3 linked regions of the Homo sapiens genome follow. The protein of the gene in region 1 interacts with the protein of each later gene in a pairwise test. Each region holds a gene or a part of one and is shown in the gene's direction. Other genes may lie near its edges. The genes, in order: CDR2L, RASAL3 and FAIM.

What was found.
Region 2: the proteins of CDR2L (region 1) and RASAL3 interact in binary tests that used the Homo sapiens proteins (3 or more experiments, as listed by UniProt).
Region 3: the proteins of CDR2L (region 1) and FAIM interact in binary tests that used the Homo sapiens proteins (3 or more experiments, as listed by UniProt).

Annotation. Positions count from the first base shown.
Region 1 is NC_000017.11:74,990,490-74,994,238, forward strand, and holds part of CDR2L (cerebellar degeneration-related protein 2-like), read left to right. Parts: intron 1-3,749.
Region 2 is NC_000019.10:15,462,662-15,466,410, reverse strand, and holds the start of RASAL3 (RAS protein activator like-3), read left to right. Parts: upstream 1-1,866; 5' UTR 1,867-1,906; intron 1,907-2,033; 5' UTR 2,034-2,052; coding exon 2,053-2,380; intron 2,381-3,749. UniProt on the Homo sapiens protein: Functions as a Ras GTPase-activating protein. Plays an important role in the expansion and functions of natural killer T (NKT) cells in the liver by negatively regulating RAS activity and the down-stream ERK signaling pathway.
Region 3 is NC_000003.12:138,611,686-138,615,434, forward strand, and holds part of FAIM (fas apoptotic inhibitory molecule 1), read left to right. Parts: intron 1-3,749. UniProt on the Homo sapiens protein: Plays a role as an inducible effector molecule that mediates Fas resistance produced by surface Ig engagement in B cells.

The DNA of each region.
Region 1 (3,749 bases):
TCACAATGGCGTCAGAGTGAGGGGTTCTGCAGCTGTAGGCCCAGCAACGGGGACAGCAGAGACTTAGAAAGGTTTATGCCAAGGCCCTTTTGAGCTGGAGGCTCCCCAGGAGAGGGAGGGAAGAAGGCATTCCAGGGGGAAGCGATGCTTGTACCAAGTCATGGAGCGACATGAGAAGGCTGGAAAATAGGGAGGGAGGGGCTGAAGGAAGCATCAGACACGGGTTCTGTGGGGCATTCCCGTGGGCCCTGCCCGCCCTGTGCCCCAGGGGCCAGGCATGGAGAGCTGGATGGTGGGACGGAGCACGGGCCAAAGGCCAGCCATATTGGGTGTCAAAGGCCTGTTGCATCTCCCAACCCACAAATTCTCTTCCACCCAGCTGCTCCCTGGTTGCCTGTGAGTGGCCCAGAAATGGTTTTCTCAGCCAGCCACCTGGTCTTCCCTCCTGTCTGTTTCCTCCTGCCCAAAGGGCAGGCCCTGATTCCACTTTCCAGAAGCTTGACTGTAGAGATCCTGTTTGGCTTTGATGCTCTGTCCTGGTGGAAAGCAGCCGTGGGACAAGTGAGGTCCTAGATTCTCGCTGTGTTCCCTCTGCCCACTGCCACGAGCATTTATAAAAATAGAAAAAGCCAGCTGGGCACAGCAGCTCACACCTGTAATCCCAGCACTTTGGGAGGCCAAGGCGGGCGGATCACCTGAGGTCGGGAGTTCGAGACTAGCCTGACCAACATGGAGAAACCCCGTCTCTACTAAAAATACAAAATTAGCCAGGCGTGGTGGCACATGCCTGTAATCCCAGCTACTCAGGAGGCTGAGCCAGGAGAATCTCTTGAACCCAGGAGGCAGAGGTTGCAGTGAGCTGAGATAGCTAGCGCCATTGCACTCCAGCCTGGGCAACAAGAGCAAACTCTGTCTTTAAAAAAAAAAAAAAAAAAAGCCTAGAAAGAGCCGGGCACGGTGGCTCACGCCTGTAATCCCAGCACTTTGGGAGGCCGAGGCGGATGGATCACAACATCAGGAGATCGAAACCATCCTGGCTAACACAGTGAAACCCCGTCTCTACTAAAAATACAAAAAATTAGCCGGGCGCGGTGGCGGGCGCCTGTAGTCCCAGCTACTCGGGAGGCTGATGCAGGAGAATGGTGTGAACCCGGGAGGCAGAGCTTGCAGTGAGCCAAGATCGCGCCACTGCACTCCAGCCTGGGCGACAGAGTGAGACTCTGTCTCAAAAAAAGAAAAAAAGAAAGAAAAAGCCATTAATTATTAAGCACTGGCACTCCCTCTTTCGGCCCACATTCCTCCCCTACCTTGGACCAGGCGTGGCAGGCCCTGTGCGTTCCTCTTTCCAGGCTGAGAGGCAGCTGCTGAGTCACAGATTTGAAGTCCTTGGTACCCGTGCTGTCCCCGCCTGCCTAGCTGACCTTGAGTCCTCAGCCTCAGGAGAGCTCTGACCTGGCAACGGGAGGGAGGTCCTGCCTCCACCCTGGTTACCCCAAAGGTGACCTGACCCTGATTCTGTGGACCCAGAGTGGCTGACAGTCGTGCCCTGGAGCTGAGAACAGGACCTCACAGCCCTGCCAGGTGGTACTTGTGTCCACAGCCTGGAGCCCACACCCCTACCTTTGTCCTCCCTGAAAATGTCCCCTCTCCCTTTGCTGAGTCTCTGCTCTGGAATCTGTGGTGCCCGAGCCAGTGAGGGACAGTGGGATTTCTAAGTTTCTTTTCAAAGACAGGCCCTGGGTTCCCCAGACATTCCTCCTCAGGCCTCTGGGGCATTGCTTCATGTAAAACCACTAAAACCTCCTGAAGGAGACCCCAGAAAACCCTGGGGTCCAGGCAGGGGAGGTGCCAACCCAGACTTAATGTTGTTTTTTTTTTTTCTTTTGACCTGCACAGTTCAAACCCATAGCCCAGACTTAGTACCTTCCCTCAGCTTGGTCCGGTGTGTCCCATTCATCCAGCTGTGACAGGTTGTTACTCCACTTTCACTTCCTGTCTAGCCAGCTCCCCCATTCTCCCGTTCCCAGGCCTCTCTCCTCTGAGCCTGGAGCCATCACCCACCCTCTGGTAGCTGGTGTCTTCTCCCTAGTACTTGGCTCCACTCAGTTCCCTGCTCTGCAACTTCTAGACTATTCCCTGATCCCTCCTGGCAGCTTTGACCAGCTTAGCTTGCGCTGTGATCCAGTTTCCCTAAAATGATCTGAGACCTGCCTCTCTGCCCCCAAACAGCTTCTATTGTGTTTCTCTTTCTACCTGTCCCTGAATCACTAGGTGGCCCAAGTCGATTCACTGCCTTCAAAGGGCAACCTTTGATGTCTCTGGTTTATAGGGTGGTATACCACCCTGGCCTGCCAGCATTAGAAATCTACACACAGCCCAGACACTAACCTGGAAGTGGGGGGTATGATGTTGCACTGCACTTGGCCTTTCTTCACTCACCTCTGATGCAGTGGCTTTGCACTCTAGTTAAGCTGCAGGGGCTCCATGAAGGCCACTTACTTGGAGCATGTCCTCCGACACCCACGGCAGGAGGTAGAATCAGTAGCAATGGCCTCTTTGCAGACCATGTAACAGTTTCCAAGGGGGAAAACATTTAGGAGAGTAGCCCTCTGATCTCTTTCATGTATATCTGAACTGCTGGATACTGTTCAGGATGAGCTAAATTTGAGTCCCACTATGGAAAACAGGAAGATAGCATGGCTGTCTCATCACAAACTGAAGGTGATCTTGCCCGGCTCCTGAGTCCTGAGTTACTGCCATGCGCACAATATAGTACAGGGCTGTAGTTCAATCTTTTTTTTTTTTCAAGACAGAGTCTTGGTCCATCGCCCAGGCTGGAGTTCAGTGGCACAATCTTGGCTCACTGCAACCTCCGCCTCCCAGGTTCAGGCAATTCTCCTGCCTCAGCCTTCTGAGTAGCTGAGATTACAGGTAAGCACCAGCACGCCCAGCTAATTAATTTTTTTGTAGAGACAGGGGTCTCACTATGTTGCCCAGTGCAATGATCTTTACATCAAACTTTACAATTTGTAGATACCTCCAGACTTTTGCCCAACTGACAGGTCATAAATTCATACAGCATATATCCGCATTCCCTTACTAGGTTTATGTTATGTAACTAGTTTTTTCTTGGCATCCTCATCAGAAGGTTAATTGCTCAAGGCTAAAAGTTCTTACCTATGATTTACATGATTTGGTTTCTTTGTTGTTGTTGTTGTTTTCAATGGCTGAGGAAGATGTTTGGGAAAGCTGCCTTTGTTTTTTCAGGCTAAGTTACTGCAGCCTTGCTCTAGGATAGCAGCTTTGCACTCCTTCTCCAGATGACACAGGGCCCTCCTTTGGCTAAAACCCAGCCCTGGAGGCTCCACTTTGGCTGTTTCAAAACCTCACCTCTGTGCACAGGATCAGACTCCGGATTTGTTCCTGTGGGGCAGTTCAGCCTTTATGTCCAGGCCCAGTGGCTGGTCTGGCCCCTCTGCCTCTCACAAGGCAATGTCAGTTCTGCCCCCAGCTTGGCTGAAGGCCCAAGGCTCTGCCCTCAGCTGCCCACCAAGAGTCACTGCTTGCCTGGGCTCATCCCAAAGGAAAACTTCCACCCCAGGTCTAGGTTTCTTTTCAAAGACATCCCTTGGGCTCCCCAGCTATTATTTCTCAGGCCTCTGTCCAATGCATAGCAAGGGCTCAGCCGAAACAACCGTATCTAGGAAACTTTCTGTCCGGGAGTATAGAGCCTATCCGTCCTCCAGAGA
Region 2 (3,749 bases), on another chromosome or scaffold:
TGAGAATGCAGTGAGCTGTGATTGTGCCACTGCACTCCAGCTTGGCCAACAGAGCAAGACCCTGTCTCAAAAAAAAATCTTATTAAAAAAAAAAGAACATGCTAAATTTGTGTTATATGAATTTTACCTCAATTAAAAAAAAAATAGGCCAGGCATGGTAGCATGTGCCTATTATCCCAGCTACTTAGGGGGCTGAGGTGGGAGGATCACTTGAGGCCAGGAGTTCAAGAACAGCCTGGGCAACAAAGCAAGACCCTCATCTCAACAACAACAAAAAAATTGTTTTTAATAAGCCAGGTGTGGTGGCATGCAGCTGTAGTCCCAGCTACTCAGGAGGCTAAGGCGAGAGGATCTCTTGAGCCCAGGAGTTAGAGGTTACAGAGAGCTATGATGGCACCACTGCACTCCAGCCTGGATGACAGACCTCATCTACAAAAAATAATAATATTCATATTATGTATAATGTAATATTATTTATATTACTATGTAATATAAATATTATATTTTTATTTTATGAGATCTATATTATTTTTATAGACCTCATTTATAAATAATAATAATAATAAGGGCCGGGCACGGTGGCTTACGCCTATAATACCAGCACTTTGGGAGGCCAAGGCGGGCAGATCATTTCAGGTCAGGAGTTCAAGACCAGCCTGACCAACATGGTGAAACCCCGTCTCTACTAAAAATACAAAAAAATTAGGCAGGCATGGTGGTGAATACCTGTAGTCCCAGCTACTCAGGAGGCTGAGTAGGGAGAATCACTTGAATCCGGGAGGCAGAGATTGCAGTGAGCCAAGATCGTGCCACTGCACACCAGCCTGGGAGACAGAGCGAAACTCCTTCTCGATAAATAAATCAATTAATAATAATAAGAGTAATAATAAATCTTGCCATCTTCCAGAAGCCCCCCTTGTACCCTCTTCCCAGCCACCAGTGCCTCCAAAAGAAACTGATACCCTGCTTGTTAGACATGGTTTTGCCTGCTTTAGGACTTTATGTAAATGGAATCACAAAGTGTATACTCTTCATTGTTTTGGGGTTTTTAAATTTATTTATTATTGCTTTTTAGAGATGGGGTCTCCCGAGGGCAGGGAGGGGAAAAAGAAAAAAAAAAGTTAGATATGAGGTCTCCCTATGTCACCCAGACTGGAGTGCACTGCCTATTCACAGGCATGATCACAGCTCACTGCAGCCTCGAACTCCTGGCCTCAAGCGATCCTCCTCCCTCAGCCTCCTGAATAGCTCAGATTACTGGCATTTTATGGCTTTGGTTTTGGTTTTGGCTCAACATTGTTTGTGATTCACCCAAGTTAAATCATTCTTTAGTTTGTTCTCACTGCTGTATGATATTCTGCTGTGCGAAGAGATCACAATTTATTCCTTCTCCCACTAATGGGTACTTAGGCTGCTTCCAATGTGGGGCTATTATGCATTGTGCTGGGGGGGCATATCTATTGGACGTCTACCTAGCAATGGAATTGCTGAGTCAGAGAAGATCCAGCTAGTAGTGTTAGTAGATCCTGCCAAACCGTTTCCCAACATGAGTGAATGGGTCTACACTCCGGCCAACTGTGGATTAGAGTTCTAGGTGCTTTGTATTCTCGCCAGCATTTGTTCAGCCTGTACTCATTTTGCAGAGAAGGCAACGGAGGCTCAGAGAGAGGGGCAAGTGCTGCCTCCCCGTCAGGGAGGCAGTCTGGGTCCTTCTTGCTAGAAGCCTGGTAACCCACCTCCTCTCTTCTCCTCCCTCGAACCTCCAGCAACCTGCCCGCACTGTGCCCTCCCAGCCTGGCTGTGGGGTGGGGTGGGACAGAGAGGGTCACGTGGAGTTGGGTTCCGAGGGAGGAAGCCAGGCGGGGTGCAGACGGCTGCTGATTCTGGGGCTGGTCAGGAAACCAAGGTAAGGGAGGGAGTGGAGGTGGGGGCAGGGGGATTCCTGGAGGCAGAGCTGAGGGTGGGGAGGGGGCCGAGATGAGGGCAGTATGTGGACAGACACTGGGCACTACTGTCACTCTCTCGTCCCCCAGGAGACCCCCCCCCCCAACCATGGACCCACCGTCGCCAAGCCGGACCTCCCAAACCCAGCCCACAGCCACCTCTCCGCTGACTTCCTACCGCTGGCACACAGGGGGCGGTGGGGAGAAGGCGGCTGGAGGGTTCCGCTGGGGCCGCTTTGCTGGCTGGGGCAGGGCCCTGAGCCACCAGGAGCCCATGGTCAGCACCCAGCCAGCCCCTCGCTCGATATTCCGTCGGGTCCTATCTGCGCCTCCCAAGGAGTCACGGACCAGTCGCCTTCGACTCTCCAAGGCCCTCTGGGGGAGGCATAAGAACCCACCGCCGGAGCCAGACCCGGAGCCGGAGCAGGAGGCCCCAGGTACATGGTTCCCCCACCCTGAGCTTGGGCCGGGCTGGGAAGCCGGATGCTTGGGTTTTGTCTGCCTCCGGAGCATCAACCATACAGACACAGGAAGTTGTGGGGAGTGCAAAAGCCCAGCAGGAAGCCGCTGGGGCCCAGCTACCCTGTTCCCTCTTTCCCCCTAAAGAGGGTAGGAGGAGTTGCCGGGGTCCTGTGGGCAGAGGGTCCATCTGAGGAAGGAACAGTGAATGTAAACCCGTGATAGTATTGTCCAGAGGCTAAACGGCTCTTGGCCCCAACGGGTCTCTCCTTCAATGGCTCAGGCCCATCCTTTCCTACCTGGATATCCATCTTCAGCCTGCCTCCTACTCTCCTACCTTCTAGCTTCCGTGTCTTTGTTCTGAGCCCTTAAGCCTCAGCCTCTCCATCAGTTCAGTGAGAATAATGATCTCCATTTTGGAGAGTATATAATTTTATTTGCTCATATTCATTCATTTATTCAAGCAGAGGTTTGTTGAGCTTCTATTGTATGTGCCAGGCCCTGATTTAGGCACTGAGGACACACTAGTGAAAGAGACAGATGACCCTCCCTGCCCCATGGAGCTCACAGTGTAGTGGAATTGACAGGAAATCCATCAACAAGAAAATGACAGATGGGCCAGGCATGATGGCTCACACCTGTAATCCCAGCACTTTGGGAGGCCAAGGTGGGTGGATCACCTGAGCTCAGGAGTTCGAGACCAGCCTGGCCAACATGGCAAAACCCTGTTTCTACTAAAAATACAAAAAAAAAAAAGTATCTAGGCATGGTGGCACATACCTGTACTCCCAGCTACTCAGGAGGCTGAGGCAGGATAATCGCTTGAACCCGGGAGGTGGAGGTTGCAGTGAGCTGAGATTGCACTACTGCACTCCCGCCTGGGCGACAGAGGGAGACTCCATCTCAATGGAAGAAAAAAAAAAAAAAGAAAGAAAAAAAATGACAGATGGTGCTAAGTGTCACACAGGGGGATCTAGAAGAGTAATGGATATCACAAGAATTAGGGCTCAGGAATGTAACACTAGCCTAGGGCCCAGCATTTTTTTTATTTTTTTTTTGAGATGGAGTCTCGCTCTGTTGCCCAGGCTGGAGTGCAGTGGCGCGATCTCGGCTCACCGCAAGCTCCGCCTCCTGGGTTCACGCCATTCTCCTGCCTCAGCCTCCTGAGCAGCTGGGACTACAGGAACCCGCCACCATGCCCAGCTAATTGTTGTATTTCTAGTAGAGACAGGGTTTCACTGTGTTAACCAGAATGGTCTCGATCTCCTGACCTCATGATCCGCCCGCCTCAGCCTCCCAAAGTGCTGGGATTACAGGCGTGAGCCACCGCGCCCGGCCCCAGGCCCA
Region 3 (3,749 bases), on another chromosome or scaffold:
TGGAGGTGAATGGGTTTTTGCTCTATCAGTTCTCACTAGAGCTGTTTGATAAAAAGAGCTTGTACCTCCCCGCTGTCTCTCCTGCTTTCTCTCTGGTCACATGCTCTCTACACAGCCAGCTCTCCTTTGCCTTCTGCCATGAGTAGAAGCAACTTGAGGCCCTCACCAAATGCAGATGCCCAATCTTGAGCTTCTCCAGACATCAGAATCATGAGCTAAATAAACCTTTTTTCTTTATAAATTATGCAACCTCGGGTATTCCTTTGTAGCAGCATGAAAGAGACTGAGACTTCTCATTGTTCCCTTCCCCCATTCCCAGGGAACATCTAATCTGCTTTCTGCCTCTACGAATGTCCCTTTTCTGGGTATTTTATATAAGTGGAATCATATTTGTCATTTTTTGTCTGGCTATTTTTTTTTTTTTTTTTTTTTTGAGACGGAGTCTCGCTCTGTCACCCAGGCTGGAGTGCAGTGGTGCGATCTCAGCTCACTGCAAGCTCCGCCTCCCGGGTTCACGCCATTCTCCTGCCTCGGCCTCTTGAGTAGCTGGGACTACAGGCGCCCGCCACCACGCCTGGCTAATTTTTTTGTAGTTTTAGTAGAGACGGGGTTTCACCGTGTTAGCCAGGATGGTCTCGAACTCCTGACCTCGTGATCCGCCCGCCTCGGCCTCCCAAAGTGCTGGGATTACAGGCGTGAGTCACCGCGCCCGGCCTTGTCTGGCTATTTCACTTAGCATAAAGTTTTCATAGTTCATCCATGTTATAGCATATGTCAGAATATCACTCCTTATTTTGGCTGAATGAAAAGGAATATCCTTTGTATATATATGCATTTTATCACTTCTCAGCCTTTTGGCCGAGATCAAGTGTATGTACCGCGTTTTGTTTATTCTTATGTTGATGGACAACTTGGGTTGTTTTCATCTTTTGGCTATTGGAAAATGCTACAATGAACAATAGTATACAGGTGTCTGAGTGGCTGATTTCAAAACTTTTTGAGTGCATTCCTAGCAGCAGAATTGCTAGGTCATATAGTAATTCTCTGTTTAGGTTTTGAGGAACTGTCATATCATTTTGTATGACAACTTCACCATTTTACAGTCCCACTAGCAATGTACAAGGATTCCAGTTTTTCCACATCCTTGCCAACACTGATTATTTTCTGTTTATTTTTAGTATAGCCATCCTAGTAGATGTGAAGTTGTATTTCATTGTTGTTTTGATTTGCATTTCTGTCGTGATTAATGTTGTTTAGCATCTTTTCATGTGCTTATTGACCATTTGTATGTCTTCTTTAGAATAATGTCTGTGGAAGTCCTTTGCCTTTTTTTTTTTTTTTTCCTGGAAACAGGCTTTTGCTCTTGTTGCCCAGGCTGGAGTGCAATGGCATGATCTTGGTTTACTGCAGCCTCCGCCTCCTGGGTTCAAGCGATTCTCCTGCCTCAGCCTCCCGAGTAGCTAGCTGGGATTACAGGTGCCTGCCACCACACTCGGCTAATTTTTTGTATTTTTAGTAGAAATGGGGTTTCACCATGTTGGCCAGGCTGGTCTCGGACTCCTGACCTCAGGTGATCCACCCGCCTCAGCCTCCCAAATTGCTGGGATTACAGGTGTGAGCCACTGCGCCCGGCCCCTTTCCCATTTTTAAATTGGGTTGTCTTTTGTGTTTATGAGCAGTAGAGTTCTTTATATATTCAGAATATGAAACCTCTATCAGATATATGATTTCCAAATATTTTCTCTCATCCTTGTCCTTTCACTTTCTAGATAATGTCCTTTGATGCACAAAAATTTTAGTTTGTTTTTGTTTTTTTGAGACAGGGTCTATTCTGTTGCCAAGGGTGGAGTGCAGTGGTGCAATCACAGCTCACCTGCAGCCTTGACCTCTCAGGCTTAAGTGATCCTCCCACTTCAGCCTCCCATGTAGCTGGGACTACAGGCATGCACCACCATGCCTGGCTAGTTTTTAAATTTTTTTGTAGAGATGGGGTCTCCCTATGTTGCCCAGGCTGGTCTTGAACTCCTGGGCTCAAGCAATCCTCCCACCTTGGCCTCCCAAATTGCTGGGAATGCGGGTGTGAGCCACCACACCCAGTCAGTTTTAACTTTTGATGAAGTTCAATTTATCTATTTTTTTCTTTTGCTGCTATCCTTTTGGTGTCCTATCTAAGAATCCATTGCCAAATCCAAGATCATGAGGATTTACCTCTATGTTTTCTTCTAAGAGTTTTGTGGTTTTAGCTCTTACATTTAGATCATTGAGATAACTTTTGTATATGGTGTGAGATAGGTGAGGTTCAACTTAATTCTCTTGTGTATGAAAATCTAGTTTTCCCCATAACATCTGTTGAAGAGACTATTCTTTCCCCACCAGTTAGAGTTGGCACCCTTGTCAAAAATCATTTGGCCACAGATATGTGGATTTATTTCTGAACTCTCAAATTCTTTAAGGACAGAAACATTTTCTTCAGGCTGGGCATGGTGGCTTATGCCTGTAATCCCAGCACTTTGGGTGGCCGAGGTGGGAGGATCACTTGAGTTCAGGAGTTTGAGACCAGCTGGGGCAACATGGTGAAACCTCATCTTCACAAAAAATTACAAAATTAGCTGGGTGTTGTGGCACATGCCTATGGTCCCAGCTACTAAGGAGGCTGAGGTGGGAGGATTGTTTGAGCCCAGGAGGTCGAGGCTGCAGTGAATTGAGATCGCACCACTGCACTCCAGCCTGGATGACTAGAGTGAGACCCTATCTCAAAAAACAAAAAAAAAGAAGGATTTTCTTCAAATTTCTGACAGCGTCTAGTACAGTATCTCTTGATAGCAGGTTCAAATGTTGAATGGAAAAACTGAAGCCTGGACATTTATCATAAGAAAACTTTTGTTGTGAAGGTACATCTCCCCTTGAGAAAACAAATAGAGCATAGCTGCTGCAAATCATACAAAACCATAGAAAAATTTAAAAGACATGTACGACCAGGTGCGGTGACTCATGCCTGTAATCTCAGCACCTTGGGAGGCCAAGTCAGGTGGATTACTTGAGCCCACAAATTCAAGACCAGCCTAGGTAACATGGTGAAACCTCATATCTACCATAAATACAAAAATGAGCCGGGTGTGGTGGTGTGTACCTGTAGTCCCAGCTACTTTGGAGGCTAAGGTGGGAGGATCCTTTGGGCCCAGGAGGTTGAGGCTGCAGTGAGCATTGAATATACCATTGCACTCCAGCCTGGGCAGCAGAACAAGACCCTGTCTCAAAACAAAAACAAAAACATGTACAGATGCTTCTTGACTTGTGATGGGGTTATATCCCAATAAACCCATTGCAAGTTGAAAATATTATAAGTTGAAAATGGATTTAGTACACCTAACCTATCAAACATCATGTCTTAGCCTTGCCTACCTTAAGTGTCCTCAGAATACTTACCTTAGCCCACATTTGGGCAAAATCATCTAACACAAAGCCTATGTTACAATGAAGTCTTGGCTGTCTCCTGTAATTTTTTGTACTGTAGTGAAAGTGAATGGTTGTATGGGTACTCAAAGTATGGTTCCTACCAAACACGTATCTCTTTTGCACCATCTTAAAGTCGGAAAATCATTAAGTCAAACCATTATAAGCCGGGGACCATCTGTATTTGACTTTGGAGTGCTTTCAGAACATTTGGTGGGCATTTAACTATTTGTTGAGTTAATGGATTACATTTGCTCATTCTGATATTACTTTGTATAGACCATCCAGAGAATCAC